Regions from separate parts of the Homo sapiens genome. Here regions 1 and 2 are each linked to region 3. Evidence: fine-mapped expression QTL. A gene starts in region 3. Each other region holds a variant in brackets. All regions are shown on one strand. Distances are between the middles of the regions.

What was found. PIP is the estimated chance that this variant, and not a neighbour inherited with it, causes the effect. A credible set is the group of variants that fine-mapping cannot tell apart.
Region 1: its variant is the best candidate, but not a certain one, in a credible set for the expression of POC1B in transverse colon (GTEx, PIP 0.66).
Region 2: its variant is the best candidate, but not a certain one, in a credible set for the expression of POC1B in tibial nerve (GTEx, PIP 0.60).

Annotation. Positions count from the first base shown.
Region 1 is chr12:89,692,215-89,698,187 of GRCh38, forward strand. All of the region lies in intron 1 of ATP2B1 (ATPase plasma membrane Ca2+ transporting 1), which reads right to left. Among named protein-coding and RNA genes, the nearest start is that of ATP2B1, 14 kb to the right of the region's middle. The variant G/A (reference allele first, on the strand shown) is at 2,799.
Region 2 is chr12:89,400,965-89,406,937 of GRCh38, forward strand. The region is part of intron 9 of POC1B-DUSP6 (POC1B-DUSP6 readthrough); the gene reads right to left. All of the region lies in intron 1 of LOC124902981 (a long non-coding RNA gene), which reads left to right. It also overlaps a transcript of POC1B not described here. Among named protein-coding and RNA genes, the nearest start is that of DUSP6, 51 kb to the left of the region's middle. The variant T/C (reference allele first, on the strand shown) is at 2,959.
Region 3 is chr12:89,523,874-89,529,846 of GRCh38, forward strand. It overlaps POC1B (POC1 centriolar protein B), which reads right to left and starts at 2,174. Exons shown (of 12, transcript NM_172240.3): 1 at 2,008-2,174; 2 at 1,247-1,331. The coding sequence starts at 2,022. POC1B-DUSP6 (POC1B-DUSP6 readthrough) reads right to left here and starts at 2,174. Exons shown (of 11, transcript NR_189589.1): 1 at 2,008-2,174; 2 at 1,247-1,331. POC1B-GALNT4 (POC1B-GALNT4 readthrough) reads right to left here and starts at 2,389. Exons shown (of 3, transcript NM_001199782.1): 1 at 2,008-2,389; 2 at 1,247-1,331. The coding sequence starts at 2,282. It overlaps GALNT4 (polypeptide N-acetylgalactosaminyltransferase 4), which reads right to left and starts at 923. Exons shown (of 1, transcript NM_003774.5): 1 at 1-923. The coding sequence starts at 676. It also overlaps POC1B-AS1. RefSeq lists an enhancer at 640-849 and silencers at 940-1,319, 1,870-2,129.

The DNA of each region.
Region 1 (5,973 bases), 170 kb after region 3:
TAATCAATGGCCAAAATGATTTAGTTGACTTAAAACTCAGGCTAAGACTCAAATTTTTCTATATTGAAGAAAGTGAACTATGCCTAGACGACAGCAGATCCTTGAATAATATTTCATTTAACATGGTTTCATTACGACATTGATGAGAAAAAACAAAATCAATTCCAGGCTGGGACGACTGTGTGGAATCTTCACTTTCTCCCTATATCTGCATGGGTTTTCTCCAGGTATTCTGGTTTTCTCCCACATACTAAAGATGTGCTTCAGGGAGAGGCTCTGGCCACTCATGACCCTGAACTGGAATCAGCAGATCAGAGAAATGAATTAATAATTACAAATTATTGTCAAATAAAAATTACTAAAGTATACAATAATCATACAAATGCTCTATAAGAAATGATGTGGTATGAGAGCAATCTGCAAGCTTGCTGTTTTTATGATTGTTTTTGAACTTCGTGTGGTAGGAGGTGCTCCTTACAATTTTCACTTAGCAAACATTTATTCTTTGATTTAACCTACTACCTACCATGACCACTGTCACTCACTGATTCACCAAAAATTGGGTTGTCTTATTAATCTTTCTTAAATGTATGTATGGAATTACTTATTTCAATGTTTAATATCAGATATTTGGTAATGTTTTTGTGACCAGAAATATGCCATAAGAACTTAACTCTTGTTTATATCGACTAGTCTATGGTAAAATTGGTTTCGTTACACATCATTTCACTTAATGTTGCAGTGTCCAAGAACCTATTGGCCACACTGAGGATGTACTGTATGCTTCTGTCAGTAAAGTATTTCTGAATGTATACTTAATTTTTCATTTTACTCCCTACAACTAGTATTAAGCCAATAATTTATTTTCTAACTGTTATTTCAGAATTAAGTAAATACTGAATATGAAGTGATGGCAACACAGACAAGGAAATGACTGTGCCTAGGGAAGCTGCAGCAATGCCTTATCAAAGAACTGACTTTTAAAGTGAGTCTTGAATGAAGAGTCCTATTTTGTAATATTTAGGCAAGGGGAGTATGATTTACAAAGGCATAAACAATGAAAAGGTTGGGCATGTCTTTAACACAGGAAGAACTCCTGCTATGATACGAAGTAACCATTGTGACAGGAGGAATGGAGCAGTATAGAAGGCTCAGAGTTTAACTGGACACATTCATTTATTAAGTACTAACTTAATGAATAATCTAAATGATAAGCACCTAACTTTCTGGACAGGACAGAAGAACTTCATGAAGGAGCTTCATAATGAGTCCTAAAAAAATGACTAGTTTGGATGAGGACATTCCAGATAGGAAGAGCAGCACACAGCCGTTGCTTTTTAACCAAATTGTCCATGCCTATTAAGTTTTGTGAATTCTTATTTTTTACTTTAAAAACCTTCCTTTTCCATCACTAAAATGTAAATTTTCAATTAGTTCCTATGATACTTGTGCTTGATTCTAAACAGTCTTTCTAGTTTCTGAAATTTGCTCTCTTTCATCTGCAGTGTGCTGGCAAACCAGTTATCAAAATGTATTTAAAATATGAATAAATACAGCAAGTAAACACCTAAAGTGGAGTAAGGTGCTGAGAGTCTTGATTCATGAACTTCTGGCGGCTTAGAGGGCTTTTCTGCCAATTTCCTGGTTCTCTACTTTGTTTTACATGGTTCAGGAAACTGGATAAATAATAGCCTTAGGCTGGGAGAAAAATTATCCTACACCTCTCTCCATTCTTCTTCTATTTCTGCTTTCTCTTTGATTCCTCCCCATTCCAGTAGCATTCCAGATAGCGATTAGTCCACTAAGTTACATTCCAGGACAAGAAGACTGGTTTCCACTGACCTCAAAATTAGAGGAATGTCATGGTACAATTAATTTGATACATTTCGTCCTTTTATACCCATAACTATTCTAAGTAATTATTACTTGAGTAGCCAAAAGAAACACTTGCACTGAATGTTCAAATACATATATATAGAGAAAGATGTGTATCTACTAACTAGATATAAAAAAGTTATATTCAACTACATAATCTGTCCTATTCTCTCTCCCTCTCATATCCCACTTACAGCTGTCACCTTAATTTTAAAAAATCCCCAATGCCACTATAATCTATGACTTTTAATGACAACCTCAAACTCCTTCTGTGCATGTGCAGATCTAGATTAAACTATAATCTCTCAACATCCCCCAAACCACTCAAAGTTTCCTCCTTTCAACTCCTTAGGGTATCTGCTTATGGGGGGGTTACCTGGTATCAAATACATTGAAGGGGCATGGCCAAAGAATCTGCTCAAAAGAGCTTTCCCTCCACTCGGAAATAAGGCCTTCAACCAATACAGTTCCCACTTGTGGAAACATTTAATTTAAATCTAGGGCCACAGGTATACTTCAGGAAGGGAGACAGGAGGAGCAAGTCCAACATTATGAAAAACTGATAGCCTGGCTTGCTACCTAGGCTGTGTGCAGAAGTACAAACAGAGCTCAGCACAACTTAGAAAACCCTCCAAATGTAATTGTGACAGAAGGCCAGAGATCACCATCAAGAATTCTAAGAACTGGCCAGGCGCAGTGGCTCACGCCTGTAATCCCAGCACTTTGTGAGGCCGAGGAAGGGGAATTGCTTGAGCCCAGGAGTTTGAGACCAGCCTGGGCAACATGGCGAAACCCTATCTCTACAAAAAGTACAAAAATTAGCCGAGCATGGTGGCACATGCCTATAGTCCCAGCTACCCGGGAGGCTAAGGTGGGAGGATCACCTAAGCCCAGAGAGATCGAGTCTGCAGTGAGCCATGATC[G/A]TGCCATTGCACTCCAGCCTGGGCGACAAGAGCAAGATGCTGTTTCAAAAAAAAAAAAAGAAAAGAATTATAAGAATAGGATACAATGGTAGCAAAACTACTGAAGTCTGAAGGTTTGACAGCAGATTCTAGAACGCTTTTCTTCTTTACTTGTATAAGAATAGCTGGAAACAATATACCCCTATTCATTATAGAAGAGATCACAGACCAGGAATGGGACATGTGCACACACTTACACTGGTTCTGGAAGCATACAGCACCTGATGAATCACTGCACAAAAAAGGAAACCAAGAAGGAACACCAGACACACTGAGCAAGGCTGACTTAAAGCTCTACATAACAGTCTCTCCTCTCAGCAGGTCACAGTTGTTACGGTCTACCCTAGCAATCATATAAATATTTTTTAAAAGAAAATATTTATCTCAAATCTGAAATTTTCTACTTGAAATGAGAATTAAAAAAAAGAAAAAAATTCATATATGATGTCACAGAAAGAGCCTGCCAAGACACCTTTAAATTTCCCTAGTTTTACCTCGTTTACAATACTGAAACTTAACTTTTTTGGACTAACTCTTTAGCTGTAGTTGTATTTAAGTTTAGATGTCAAACTTCTGAAGTTTTCTCCTCTATTAAAAAAAAAGATAGATACATTAATCTATTAAGCAACATTTTACAAAAACATCTACTCACTGGCATTTTTAAATAGTAATACCCATTTCCATTGGCTGCTTCTTAGTATTCTATTCTATTTAGTAAAGTCTATCCTGCTCTTTAGAAGCAGGGATAGTAAAATTCTTGTTTCACAAAAAATTAAATTTATATAACATAGTTATAAGAAAATATTTCCAATCTTTGTGTCATTTACCTGACATATCATTCAGCTCAAATTTAAAAGAAACAGTATCTGTGATAAATTCTCACCCCAAGCACACTACAGTTTCTATAAGATGCAGAAGTCCAGTGTCAGTGGATTCAAGCTCAAGACCAGACACAAGAGGCTCATTCAAGAATCATTAACAACCTCACAGGTATAAACAGGGCATTGTGCCAAGGGTGAGTGACAGAAAGATGCACAGTTCCTGCTCCCAAACTGAACATGTCACGGAAGTGTCAAACATGTGAACAACAAAATATGAATTCTTAAAAGTGCTATGGAAATTTGGAAAAGTAAAGCAGAGACCTGGAAATGAGTGGGACATACTATAGACACAGCAAGAAAAGACAGACTCCCCAAAATCTGACCAGCCTCAGAGAAAGGAGACTGGAAGAAAATTTTAGTCATAAGACCACAAACTACCAAAATCCTTTAAATACAGTAAATACAGAGAAACAATCATAAATGAAGACAAACATATGCAAATAAAGATGCTCACTGGAAGATTATTTAACAGAAAAGAATTAAAATCAAAACATCCAATAACAAGGGACTAGCCATAGGATACAACATTATTAAAATGTTGTTAATGAAAAAATTTAATGACATGAGAAAATAATACAAAGTTTCTAAAAAGCACATAATTATACCTACATTATCTGAAGGATGTTAATAGGTAAGTTTTTCAAAAGATAAAAACCATTAAAGTGTTAAAACTAGCTATTTCTCAGACGGAGGATTATGAGTGATTTGTTTCACTTTACATTGTCCTATTTTCCAAACATTATATAGTGTTACATTTCTAACTGGTAAAAAGGTTATGTAAGTCACTGTATTTTAGGGTATTCATAGCCCTTTAAAACTATTCATAGCCCTTTTCATCTCTTTCTATAGAGAATATCTCATCCATATATTACACAGAACCCACTCATTTAAATGGGTTAATATGTGTAAATTGCTTTGAACAGTACCAGCAGGTAGAAGGCAGCTACACAGGTGTTCATTTTATTCAATAATCATACATTCCCTTTAGTCAAAGTAACTAGTGTGTTTTGGAGCTAGTCTGTTTTTCATGGCATGTTAACAAAAGAACATTAGTTTTGTTTTTTTTTTCACCCTCTAAATTCTAACATCTCTTAAGAAATGACTGCTGTTTTCCCGAGATTCTACTTCCTTCAAAAAAAAAAAAAAAAAAAGCAAGAAGTAATTCAAATATCAAGTTCCTTAATAGGAAGACAGAAATTTAATGAGTGGAATGGAATTTGGCCTTATCCAGATGAAGAAACAGAAATCATACACCAGACTCTTATCAGGCAGTGGGCTATATGTAATTATTTGGAAAAAATGTCTTTATATGTCTTTATGAGCTTGGGGTATGGCGGGTCAGAATCTCAGGGGAAGACTCAAGAAACCAAATAAGGCAATCAATTGTTCTATATAATAAAGAAATGAGGAATCTGGATTTGCAAAGTAGAGGATGACTGGAGGGAGAAATTAAGGAAGGGGACTCTTGAGTTATCCATAGACTGTCTTCACTAAAGAAATGTTCCTTCATGTCCACATTGCTCACTTCTGCTTTTGTAAAAATGGATTATTTTACCCAAAGTAAAATTGAGTTGTGTATCTAAATTGCACAAGACTGTACAAAGACACAGGAGATGAATGACAGATGACATATCTGGGTTATCCACACATTTAAACTTATTTCATACATGTATTCATTTTCAGTTTTGACAAACTTATACATGCATAAAGTCTGTTTAGGAAAACAAATCCAAAAGGCTTTTTTTTTTTTTTTTTTTTAAATATTAGCAGTCCTCTTAGTTCCTCCCCACCCCCACCGTTTTTTCAAATATCAGCAGTCCTCTTAGTCCCCCATCCCATTTTCTACTCTGAAGCAACTAGGAAAAGTACCCTCAAATCCTTCATCTCCACAAATAATGCTTACAAAGCTACCGCTTGCTTTTTCAGTTACAGGCTTCATATATATCTTTCCCCCACCTGCCGAGATGGAGTCTCGCTCTGTTGTCCAGGCTGGAGTGCAGTGGCACGATCTCAGCTCACTACCTCCGCCTCCTGGGCTCAAACAATTCTCCTGCCTCAGCCTCTAGTAGTGGGGATTACAGGCCCATGCCACTACGCCCGGCTAATTTTTGTATTTTTAGTAAAGACGGGGTTTCACCATTTTGGCCAGGCTGGTCTCGAACTCCTGACCTCAAGTGATCCACTCATATCTTTTATCACCATTCTTCTTCCCATCCCCAGCACAAACACAAATGCTTCCTAAAGTACTTTTATCA
Region 2 (5,973 bases), 120 kb before region 3:
AACATCCTCCACAATGTGGAATGGAAGCCAGCAGGGCATTGCACCATTCTTTACCCTGTTTACCTGTCCTGGGGCAAGGAAGGCGCCCTCTGAGTATAGTCCTTTCCTGAGGTGGAATAAGCAGGGCAGGGCCAGAGGCACAAGACAGGGCACTGAGGAAATGATAAGAATACCAGTGTATTGGCAGGGCGAGGTGGCTCACGCCTGTAATCCCAACACTTTGGGAGGCCGAGGTGGGCGGATCACGAGGTCAGGAGATCGAGATCATCTGGCTAACGGTGAAACCCCATCTCTACTAAAAACACAAAAAATAGCTGGGCGTGGTGGCACGCACCTGTAGTCCCAGCTACTCTGGAGGCTGAGGTAGGACAACTGCTTGAATCCGGGAGGCAGACGTTGCAGTGAGCCGAGATCATGCCACTGCACTCCAGCCTGGGTGACAGAACAAGGCTCCATCTCAAAAAAAAAAAAAAAAAAAGGAAAAAAAAAACAGTGTATTGAGTTGCCTTTTTCATTTTTTTTTTTATTCCCATGCTTTCCCACGATTAGATTTTTCTTTTTCTTCTTCTTTAGACTCACCCAGATTTCCTGTGAGCCTGGCTCTGGAGCACACTGGTTACTGTTCACCTACATTCAGGACACTTCTGAAAAAAATATTGAACAAAGATTGCTTGCCAGTTCCCTCACTGGAGGTTGAATTCCAAAGGTTATTTTCTTTAAGCCTTAATCTCAATCTTTTGAAGTCAAATCCTTCTCAAGATGGGTCCTCACAAAGTCCTAAGAACTGAACAATGTGTCATTATGACACTTGCAGTAATTTGCAAATAGCATTAGTGAATTCAAGTATTTGTAAGCAACTTTGCATGGGTCAGCCATGCTGTAATCAAGAAAACTACAGTTCTAGGTTAATGTTGGAGCATTAGGTTGACCTAATGCAAACAACGAACAATACGAGTCAAACTTTCTCTTTTTTCCTGAGAAATAGTTAATGTCAAAGTACAGTGCTTTCATGTGACTACCACTAGTGTGGAAAGTGGGCCATCATTCATTTATCACCCCAAGGAGATGAGAGATTCTAGTGCTCAGAGCTGCTCACTGTAGGAAGCCTTGGAAGTGGCCGGTGCCTGTTCCACAGCAGGTGTCCAGTTAAGTGTTATCTCTCTTCTTCCTTCTCTTTTTTGTTTCTCCCTTCCTTCCCGTCCCTTAAAACATTGCCCCAGAGGAAAAGATTCCAAACTTACTGAAAGTTAGTGTAATGAGTTATTCCCCACAGCTATTCTGCTATTGTCCTTCTTGAAGTCTTCAGCCCTGTGATTAGATTACTGCCTAATTCATTTAATTAATTCCTATATGACAAGATGTGTTATCACAAATACACACACACACACACACACACACACACACACCCCTTTAAAAATTTTTTTTTAGGTTCAGGGGTACATGTGAATGTTTGTTACATAGGTAAACCTATGTACGGGGGGTTGTTGGACAGATTTTGTTACCCAGGTATTAAGCCCAGTACCCAATAGTTATCTTTTCTGCTCCTCTCCCTCCTCCCACCCTCCACTCTCTAGTAGACCCCAGTGTTGGTTGTTTCCTTCTTTGTGTTCATAAGTTCTTATCATTTAGCTCCAACTTACAAGTCAGAACATGCGGTATTTGGTTTTCTGTTCCTGCATTAGTTTGCTGAGAATAATGGCCTCCAGTTTCATCCATGTTCCAGCAAAAGACGTGATCTCATTCTTTTTTATGGTTGCATAGTATTCTATGGACATACATACTTTCTTTTTTTTGAGACAAGGTCTCGCTCTTTCACCCAGGCTAGAGCACAGTGGCACAATCTTGGCTCACTGCAACCTTCGCCTCCCAGGTTCAAGCAATTCTCAAGCCTCAGCCTCCTCCCAAATACCTGGCTAATTTTTGTATTTTTAGTAGAGACTAAAAATGTTTCACCATGTTGGCCAGGCTGGTCTGGAACTTCTGCCTCTGCCTCGCACAGTGCTGGGATTATAGGCGTGAGGCATCTTCACCTGGCCGACACAAACACATTTTTTTTTTTTTGAGATGGAGTCTTACTCTGTCACCCAGGCTGGAATGCAGTGTCTCCATCTCGGCTCACTGCAACCTCCACCTCCCAGGTTCAAGCAATCCTCCTGCCTCAGCCTCCCAAGTAGCTGGCATTACAGACGCCCGCCACCACACCCAGCTAATTTTTGTATTTTTAGTAGAGATAGGGTTTCACCATGTTGGCCAGGCTGGGTTCTAACTCCTGACTTCAAGTGTCTGCTCGCCTTGGCCTCCCAAAGTGATGGGATTATAGGCGTGAGCCACCACGCCCAGCCCTGACACACGTACATTTTTAACTTGAGGTTTTCAATGCCTCAATTTGAAACTGTGATGAGAGCTGAGAAATCTCTTCAACGTCCAGTGCTTGGTACTCTCTGAAATCAACCCTCAAGGTAAACTGAGTTTGAAATTTTTTATGGTCACTTTGTGGTATGAGTGACCCCTTAAAGCCTACCTCTGGTTAAATATCTGCCTCAGAGAAGAGTCAGAGCCTGATATTTCTGAGAGTTTTTTGAGGCTCAAAATTCCTCAAGGCCATCTTAGACTTTTGAGACTCCTCTGGTCCTAGAATTACTTCTACATGTCCCATTTTGGCAGATGTAAATCATCAGCAGATGATCTAAATGTTCTAATCTCCATTCTAAGCTACCATTTCCCGGCCATGAAGCCATCTATCATCCCTTAAAACATTTCCAGGAACGAGCTACACTCTATCTCTAAAGGAGGCCCGTTTTGCTTTCAGATAGTACTCATTGTTTGAAAGTCTTCATTAGTTGTCTCTATCCTCCCTTTGCCTTCTGGAGTAAAATAAAAAATGTTGGCCGGGCGCAGTGGCCCACACCTCTAATCCCAGCACTTTGGGAGGCCCAGGCGGGAGGATCACCTGAGGTC[T/C]GCAGTTCGAGACCTGCCTGACCAACATGGGGAAACCCTGTCTCTACTAAAAATACAAAATTAGCCAGGCGTGGTGGCGCATGCCTGTAATCCCAGCTACTCGGGAGGCTGAGGTAGAAGAATTGCTTGAACTTGGGAGGTGGAGGTTGCGATAAGCTGAGATCGCGCCATTGTATTCCAACCTGGACAACAAGAATGAAACTCCATCTTAAAAAAAAAAAAAAAAGTCCAGAGTTTCAATATGGCAGCCTTTCAAATACCTAGGTCAGCAGCTGTTTCCTACAGAGGCTTCTGATGGCTGAGTAGGTGGGTCTGCTGTGTCCACCATTCCAAGCTGAGGGATGCAACTTACTTCCTTATACCTAAGTGGCCATGTTCTGTGTGTTTCCACCATCCTGGTCCATTTATGGGCTCATGTGTGACCTATGAGGAAACCCAGCACAAGTGTTTGTCTTACTAAGGACAGTTCATCAATGAGATTCTTTCTCTCAGCACTTTTGTCTGGAAACATGGGAAAAGGTCAATTAGACAGTAACATTAACAAAGCAGAGACACAAAATGAAAAATAGCCAAGTCATGTTAATGTTAATGATGGAGCACTAGAATAGGAGTCCTGTGGCTGGAGGTACAGTATAATAACCAGCTTACCTATAATTTCAATAGGTTCTATCAATAATTTTGAATGATTTCCTGCACTAGATCTCAGCTCTAGGCTCAGTTAGACCCAGCTACAACATGACTCTTCCTTCCAACTAACTTGACTGTCAGCTCTTCCTGGGTTGCCACAATCGAGAGTCTTGCCTGTATTTTCACATATATCCTTCTAAAAATTCCTGAATTACCTAAAATAAACCAGATGAGTCCCTAATCCAGGAACCCACAAGAAACTAACTAATAGTTCTTACCTTCTCTAAGTGTTCTCTTCTCCAGGTAAAGATCTCCAAACTTTCAAACCACTTCTTCAACTTGTCTACCTCCTACTCTCTCCCACCGCCCCCTCTAAGTTTCTGACTCCTACCTCCTCACCCCTAGTATTCGGCATCACCAATGAAGTAGATCAGTGGCAACCCATGGTGAGCACTGTGCTCTGCCTCCTCCAGCATATGTAGAACACCTTTATGATAACAAACATAAAATGTTTACCATCAAATGGATACCTTTCCATGTTTTGAATGATCAAACATTTTTCTACCTGATCTACCCCATGGAACGCAAGGATTGTCAGAACCAAACTTGTAAAAAATGAACTAACATGGTTAAAAAAAATGAACTAACATGGTTGATGGAAGGAAATTCTCTTGAAGGAAATATGAAAATATGATATAGTCCCCTATTGATCTCCTGACTAGCCTTCTTCATTGGATGAGATAATAACAAATATGGGCTCTCATTTCAAGTTACTCAGGTAGTAGTGGGAAAAGAAGTACAATAAAATCCTGGCCAGGTGTGGTGGCTCATGCCTGTAATCCCAGTACTTTGGGAGGCAGAGGTGGGTGGATCACCTGAGGCCAGGAGTTCAAGACCAGCCTGGCCAACGTGGTGAAAATCTGTCTCTACTAAAAATACAAAAATTAGCCGGGCATGGTGGCGTATGCCTGTAATCCTAAACTCCAGATAATACATTTAAATTTAATATCTGAAAAAAAGTAAATATTCTTTTGTGTAGCTAGTTTTTGGCTGCAAGTAATAAAAAAAAATAGTTGTTTAAGCCATAAGGATATTATTTAATGAGGTATCTAAAAATGAGTGCAGGGCCGGGGCGGTGGCTCACACCTGTAATCCTGCACTATGGGAGGTCGAGATGGGAGGATGGCTTGAGTCCAGGAGTTTGAGACCAGCATGGGCAGCATGGTGAGACCCTGTCTCTACAAAAATGTTTAAAATTAGCCAGGTGTGGTGTCACGCATCAGTAGTCCCAGATACTTGGGAGGCTGAGATGGGAGGAATCCTTGACTGAGCCCAAGAATTTGAGGGTGTAGTGAAATATGACTGTGCCACTGCACTCCCACCTGGGTGAAAGAGTGAGATCCTATCCCTTAAAAAAAAAAAAGTGCAAGTTTTGAGTGTTTTTTTTTTTTTTTTGGTTGTTGTTTTCTTCACTGGAGGTTAGAATTCTGCTTGGCATTTTTGTATAACTATGTTCAAGACTGAAAGTCCTGGAAATCCTGAGGCACCAGCAGACTTCCCCCCACATCTCATTAGAGAAGACAGAGACACATGGCCAAGCTGAGTTGCAAAGGAGGCAGGGAAGTGAGTGTCTGGCAAAGGGAAATAGGATTGTCATGACTAGGCAAAGTGTCTGTTTCAGTGTGTTTAGAATCTTTAAAAATAGAGTTTCATTTTATTACAAAAGTTAATACATACTTTTTAGAGAAAGTTTGGAAAATAGAAGGAAAACATTCCCTAATGCTGCTATTCAAAGACTTCTCGATACACCATTTGAATACTGTTCTAATCATATTGCACATAGAGTGTGATCTTTTCTTTCTTCTTTTCCACTTGATATATGATTAACTTAAGGCTCTATGGTTTTGGAAAGATGTTTTCCATTTTGAAATAAAACTTAAACTAAAGGAGGCAGCATAGAGCAGTGGCAAGAGGACTGGCTTGAGAATAAAGAGATGGTGCTTGTTGTCTGCGTTCTGGCACGAATCCATCACTGTATCTCCATTTCCTCAAAATAAATAAGTATGTTTTCTTAGGTCTCCTATTCCCGGGTCTGCAAGAGCATGAGAGCTGTGCCTTTGAGACACACAAGTCACACTGTTCAGATACTGGTTCAACAAAGCAGGTTAGGGCCATGAAGACAAGCAGAAAAGGTAAAACTGGAGGTTATCGCCATGGGAAACTACATGCCCGATACGTAATAATATAATATATAATATGTGATATATAAGATAATACCAGGTCTTCCAATTTTTCAACAGAAACCAGAAATCTAGGCCGGGCACAGTGGCTCACACCTGTAATCCCAGCACTTTGGGAGGTGGAGACGATAGGATCACCTGCGGTCAG
Region 3 (5,973 bases):
GGAAAGTGAGGACGTCCCCAGTGGCGAAAGTGGCCCCAATCAGACGGGCCCTAACCAGCCCCTCTCGCTTATTGGTCCTAATCAAGCGTACTCTATCAAGATTGCTGATGTAAGTTTCAAGTTGTGTCTTCAAATAAACTCTGTCACTCAAGTCATCCACCAAGATGATCTCTTTCAAAAGAACTGCAGGAGAAGTTTCTAAAACACTGTGAATGGTACGGAGCAAAGTCGACCAGGCTTCGTTATAGAAAGCAATGATAACAGAGGTGGTAGGAAGTGTCCTATAGTTGAACTTCTGGGACTTACACTCATACATTCTTTTATCCTCTATGTGTCGATGCAGGGAAATCCTGTCACTGAGGTAAATATTGATGGCGTATCTCTCAATGAGTTCTTCTTGCTGCTTCAGTTCATCCTCGTTGAGCTGGAGTTTGCTGGCTTTCCCCCACTCCCCAAGTGCACGGGAATCTGCAGGGGGCTTCTTATAAAGCGGTCGAGACAAATCCTCCGTATTTTTCTGGAGGTCTGAGAGCCTTCTTGACCCCAGCTCCCTGGCACGGCCGGCTCCTGCGGAGGCATGAAAAGTAGAGACCAAGAGCTCCACGAAGATATAGGCCACTGTTAAAAACGCCAGCAGCAGGCAGCTCTTGCCTGCCCAAGTCCACCTCACCGCCATCCGGATTCTCAGGGCTGAGGCGCAGACGCGGCCACCAAGCCACCACGCAGGGGAAGGGCGGCGGAACCCACAGCTCGAGCTCAGGTACTTCCCAGCAGGTTCTTCCTTTCATGCAGGCGCTAGGCTCCTTTCCAGCCACCCAGGCTTTCCAGGGGTCACCTGAGCCCTCTCGGTCCTCGGCCTCCGGCACAGCCCAACTCCTCTCTCCCTACTTCCTCCTGCTCGGCTCACAACTTTTCACAAACTCTCCAGCCAACACCCCACCCTCCCCGGGCCGAGGAGAAACCCCTCCCCTTCCCACTCACTCCTCCTGGTGGTTAGTTTGCGAAAGTCGTCCGCCAGGCCCAGACCGCTGGATAGGAGGCTCTTGGCCGGGCCGGGGGCTGGGGGCCGGGATGGCAGAGGGGGCCCTAGCTGCGCCCCGCCGCGCTGGGCCCTCGTCTCCGGGTGCTCTCAACCCTCATACAGGCCCTTAGCCGTTCTCCTAGGGACCCTGCCCGGACAGGAGGAAAGGTTTCCGGCCCATGGAGTTTAGTCTCATTACAAAAGCAAAACAAGAATAAGACTTACCAAGTTGCTTGCCGTTGGGGCTGAGGTCCAAGGAGGTGATCGCAGCTTTGTGGCCTTTGAAATAACGCTCCAGAACGGGGTCCTCCTGGAAAGGAAAGTTGTCAAGTTTTGAAAGCCGCCGCAGACCTCGAATTCTGGCGGCTGGGATCCACGCTGCCACTTCCCCGGAGTCCGGCTTGGGAATGGCCACCCAGGCGGCGGCTTGGCTGGGCGGCGGGGCCGGGCAGCAGCCCACCCACGGGCGCGGCGCCCAGTCCTGCTACAGGGAGACGCCGGCGCCAGCTCTCCCCGCAGAGCCCGCAAAACGCTCTGTTCGCGCTTCCCAGAGTCCAGCGCATCGCAGGAACCGCGGCCCCTTTGAAATGCACGTTCCCGGGCCCCGCCCGCTGGCCCAAGGCAGGCAGGTGCGAGGATGCGCCTCGGCTTTGGTACTTTTTTTTTTTTTAATACTTCCTAGGTGATTCTGACGCAGGCGCTCCACGGAAACCCTCCGAGAATTCTGGGGGCCGTGGGGCCGCCCAGCTCAGTCCGGAGCTCCGGAACTCGGGGAAGAGCGTCCGGGAGCCGGGTCTGGGTTCCGCACTCCGTCCGCCCCGATGGCAGAGAGTGAGATACGGACGCCCCGGGACGAGGGGCTCAGGACCCGGCTACGGACACCTGCCTCCATCTCCCTCCAGGTGCGGCTTCGGCCCGGACCTGGCCCCGCAGCCCGCGGGACAGGCTCCAGGGAGGGACCCCCCCCACCTCCAACCCGTCCTTACCGTGGCTGAGGCCATCGGGGGAGTGGTCGGCCCAAGGCTCCTGTGGGTGGGGGAACCCGGAGAGGGGAGGGGAGAGGATGGGGAAGGAGAGGGGACCGTGCGGCTCCCGGAACCGTCTGCCCAGAGCGGCAGCGCCTCCCGGTCACTACAACAACGGCGGCCCAGTCAAACCCCGCGCTCCAGGCATGGCCAGCCGAGCCCCGAGACACCGCCAGCCCTGTAAAGAGAGGACGGGAGGTATGCGCCGGGTCAGCTGTGGCCACACACCAAGCCATGTTAACTAACACTCGCGTTCTCCCTGGTTTGATGTCAGGAAGTGGGGTAGTAACCAGGACTGGAATAAGAGCGATGAATGGAAGGGCGTTGTGAGCCTGTGATCGATGCGATCAGAGTTCTATTACGTTTTAAAGAGACAGCACCCGTGACGTTTAAGGTGATCCCCTACCGCTTATTTTGTTGACGTAAAGCTTTGACATGAAGAGGGGCAGCTTGCTAGTTATTAATATACTAAAAGGAACTAAATCCCCTGAGGGCAGATTTGAATTTATTTAACCACTGTTTTCCACACAGTGCCCTGCAGGATATTGATATAGTTGCTGGATGTGCGTGATGAATGAATGAGTGAATGAATGAATAAATGTTGTGCATGCACTTAATAATTTTCTGCGATATGTTTCCATTCTCATCTGCTTATTTGCGTATACCTTAGAGCACTAAACTTACACAGCTGGATACTTAAAGTCTTTAGGAAGACTTGGAAACATGGTTTTTTTTGTTTGTTTTTTGTGAGACCACGTTTCTACAGCAGGCTTTGTTACACATAGTATCATTTGTGCTTCAGCCAAACAATGAAGTTGGTAGAATTACAAAATGTTTTCAATGTTTCCAAGTTATAAACTTGATTCCTAGATATTGGTCTTAGAGGTCACACAGAGACAGTTCTTCTAATTCCAAGTCCATATCCTTTTTTTTTTTTTAACCCTGCCTCAAAGCGTGATGTTCTGAGCTGAAAATTACATATAGTGTAAAGATCCTTAGCAACATCAAAGGGCATGATAGAACACAGCTGGTAAGACATGTGTTTTATGCAAATGAAAGGTATGCTACACACCTTAATTACAGATTCCCTAGTTGTCTAGTGATTGAGTTTAATTTTATTGAATATGGTACTTAACAACTAAACAGGTAGGCTTTAGATTACAGTATTAGTTAATTTAAGTATACACTTGTTAAATATCTGTTGTATGTTTGGCCTTGAGGGACACAATGATGACTAAGATATTTCCCCTACCTTCAAGAACTCAGCAATCTAGGGTTGGTGAGTCTCATGCTTTAGCATTTGTAATGTTGATTTGGGGGCTCCATTTCCAGAGATGCTGAATCAACATATACAAGGTGGGATCCAGGGCCCTTCTGATGTAACAAGCTCCATAGATGATTACTATGGGAGTCTCAGCTGTCTATGTTGAGAAACACTGCATTAGTCTAGGAGATGATATGTTAAGAGTGTTGATATCAGCAACTTGTCAGCAAACTGTTGCAGGACTCTTAGTTTTGCTACATATTACCAGTTTAGGCTTGATTTATTTTAAAAGCCTGCCATGTTTAAAACTAATGCTGGATACTGGTGGGAATGTAAAATGATGTAGCTCTGTGAAAAAGTTTGTCAGTTCCTAAAAAGTTAAACATACAATTACCTTATAATCCAGCAATTTCACTGCTAGGTATATCCCATAAGTATTGAAAGCAGAGACTCCAACAGATGCCAGTGTTCAAAGCAAGCATTATTTACAATAGCCAAAAAGTGGATACAATCCTAGTATCCAACAGATGAATGGATAAACAAAATGTATGTGATATATACATATAAGGAAATATTATCCTGCCATAAAAAGAAATGAAATTGTGATACAAGCTATAACATGGATGAACCTTGAAAACATTTTGCTAAGTGAATAAGCCAAACACAAATGAGCATATATTGTATGATTCCATTCATATGAGGTACCTAGAATAGGTGAATTCATAAGGACAGAAAGTAGAATAGAGGTTACTAGGGCTGGGGGTAAGGGAGACTGGGGAGTTACTGTTTAATGGGTGCAGAGTTTCTGTTTGGGATGATGAAGTTCTGGAAATAGATAGTGGTGATGTTTGCACAACATTGTGAATGTACTTAATGCCAGTGAATTGTACACCTAAAAAATGGGTAAAATGGTAAATTTCATTACAGGTATTTCACCCCAATAATAAAATAATAATGCCAGAAGCTGAAGAGTAATCAGGACCTCAGGATTACTCATAGGTATGTTACGTCTAATATTGGGCACAGGAGAAGCAGAAAAGGGAAGAAGTTGGAGATTTAGAAACTAGCTCACAAGAAGAAAAAATATAGATTTTTATTTAAGTGTTTTAGTAAAAGTTTAGCTTTTACTTTTTTTCTCAATTATCAAGAAACACATGTTTTAAATTTAAAAGATGGGAGGGAAACTACATATTAATCCTATTACCTAAAGTTGATCTTAAAAAATTTGTCACCTACTGATATGGTTTGGATTTGTGTCCCCACCCAACTGTCATGTAGAATTGTAATCCCCAGTGTTGGAGGAGGGGGCTGGTGGGAGGTGATTGGATCATGGGGGTGGATTTCTCCCTTGCTGTTCTGAGTGAGTTATCACGAGATCTGGTTGTTTAAAAGTGTGTAGCACTTCCCCCTTTGCTCTCTTCCTCCTGCTCCAGCCATGGAGCAGCCATGCTCTCTTCCCCTTTGCCTTCCACCATGTTTGTAAGTTTCCTGTGGCCTCCCCAGCCATACTTCCTGTACAGCCTGCAGAACCATGAGCCAATTAAACCCGCTTTTTTTGTAAATTACCCAGTCGCAGGTAGTTCTTCATAGCAATGTGAGAACGGACTAATATACCTACCTATGTTTTCACTACATGCCAGGACTTTTCTAAGTACCTTACAAATTTTGACATTTAGTGATCATAACGATCTTATTAGAGATGTGCTATTATTACCATTTCCGTTTTATAGATGAGTAAATTGATATGCAAAGACATTAAGTTACTTGCCCAAGGCACACTGCTAACTAGGAAGTGGCAGAGTTGAGATTTTTAGACACTCGCAGTCTGCCTCCAGAATCCACTCTCTCTTTTTTTTTTTTTTTTTTGAGACGGAGTCTCACTCTGTCGCCCAGACTGGAATGCAGTGGCGCGATCTCGGCTCACTGCAAGCTGCTCCGCCTCCCAGGTTCACGCCATTCCCCTGCCTCAGCCTCCCGAGCAGCTGGGACTACAGGCGCCCGCCACCAAGCCCGGCTAATTTTTTTTGTATTTTTTTTTTAATAGAGACTGGTTTTCACCGTGTTAGCCAGGATGGTCTCAATATCCTAACCTCGTGATCCGCCTGTCTCGGCCTCCCAAAGTGCTGGGATTACAGGTGTGAGCCACCTCACCTGGCCCAGAATCCACTCTCTTAATCACTGTCATGACTTTTGTGTGATTGCAAGTGTTATGTAAATGTATAAAACATTGCATTCTTGCCAAGGTTTATAATAATAAGTTTTACAAAATGAAAGTAATATCTCCTTTATTTTCATTCCACTGTCCTCATTTATTACTCTAAACTGCCCTTCCCATTGTTCTTTTCCATAGTATTTGATTTTGTTCTTTTCGGCTTTTCTTCACCTTTGCAAATAGCAAAAGCTCAGAGGTAGACAATTGGAAATGTGGTCAAAGTTGGGGAAGTTTTTTCTAACCTCAAGCCTAATTCCACTTGCTACAATGATTATTTAGACCTCTCTGGACTGCAACCTAATCATTTATGTGGGTGGGAGCCACAAGCAGGATCAGTATTTAAAAACCTACAAGGTTTTACTGGAGGCCGGGTACTAGCTAGGACAAACTGACCTCTAATTAGCCCTTCTTATACAGTTCCCCCTAAAACAGAAATTGAATGTACTTACTT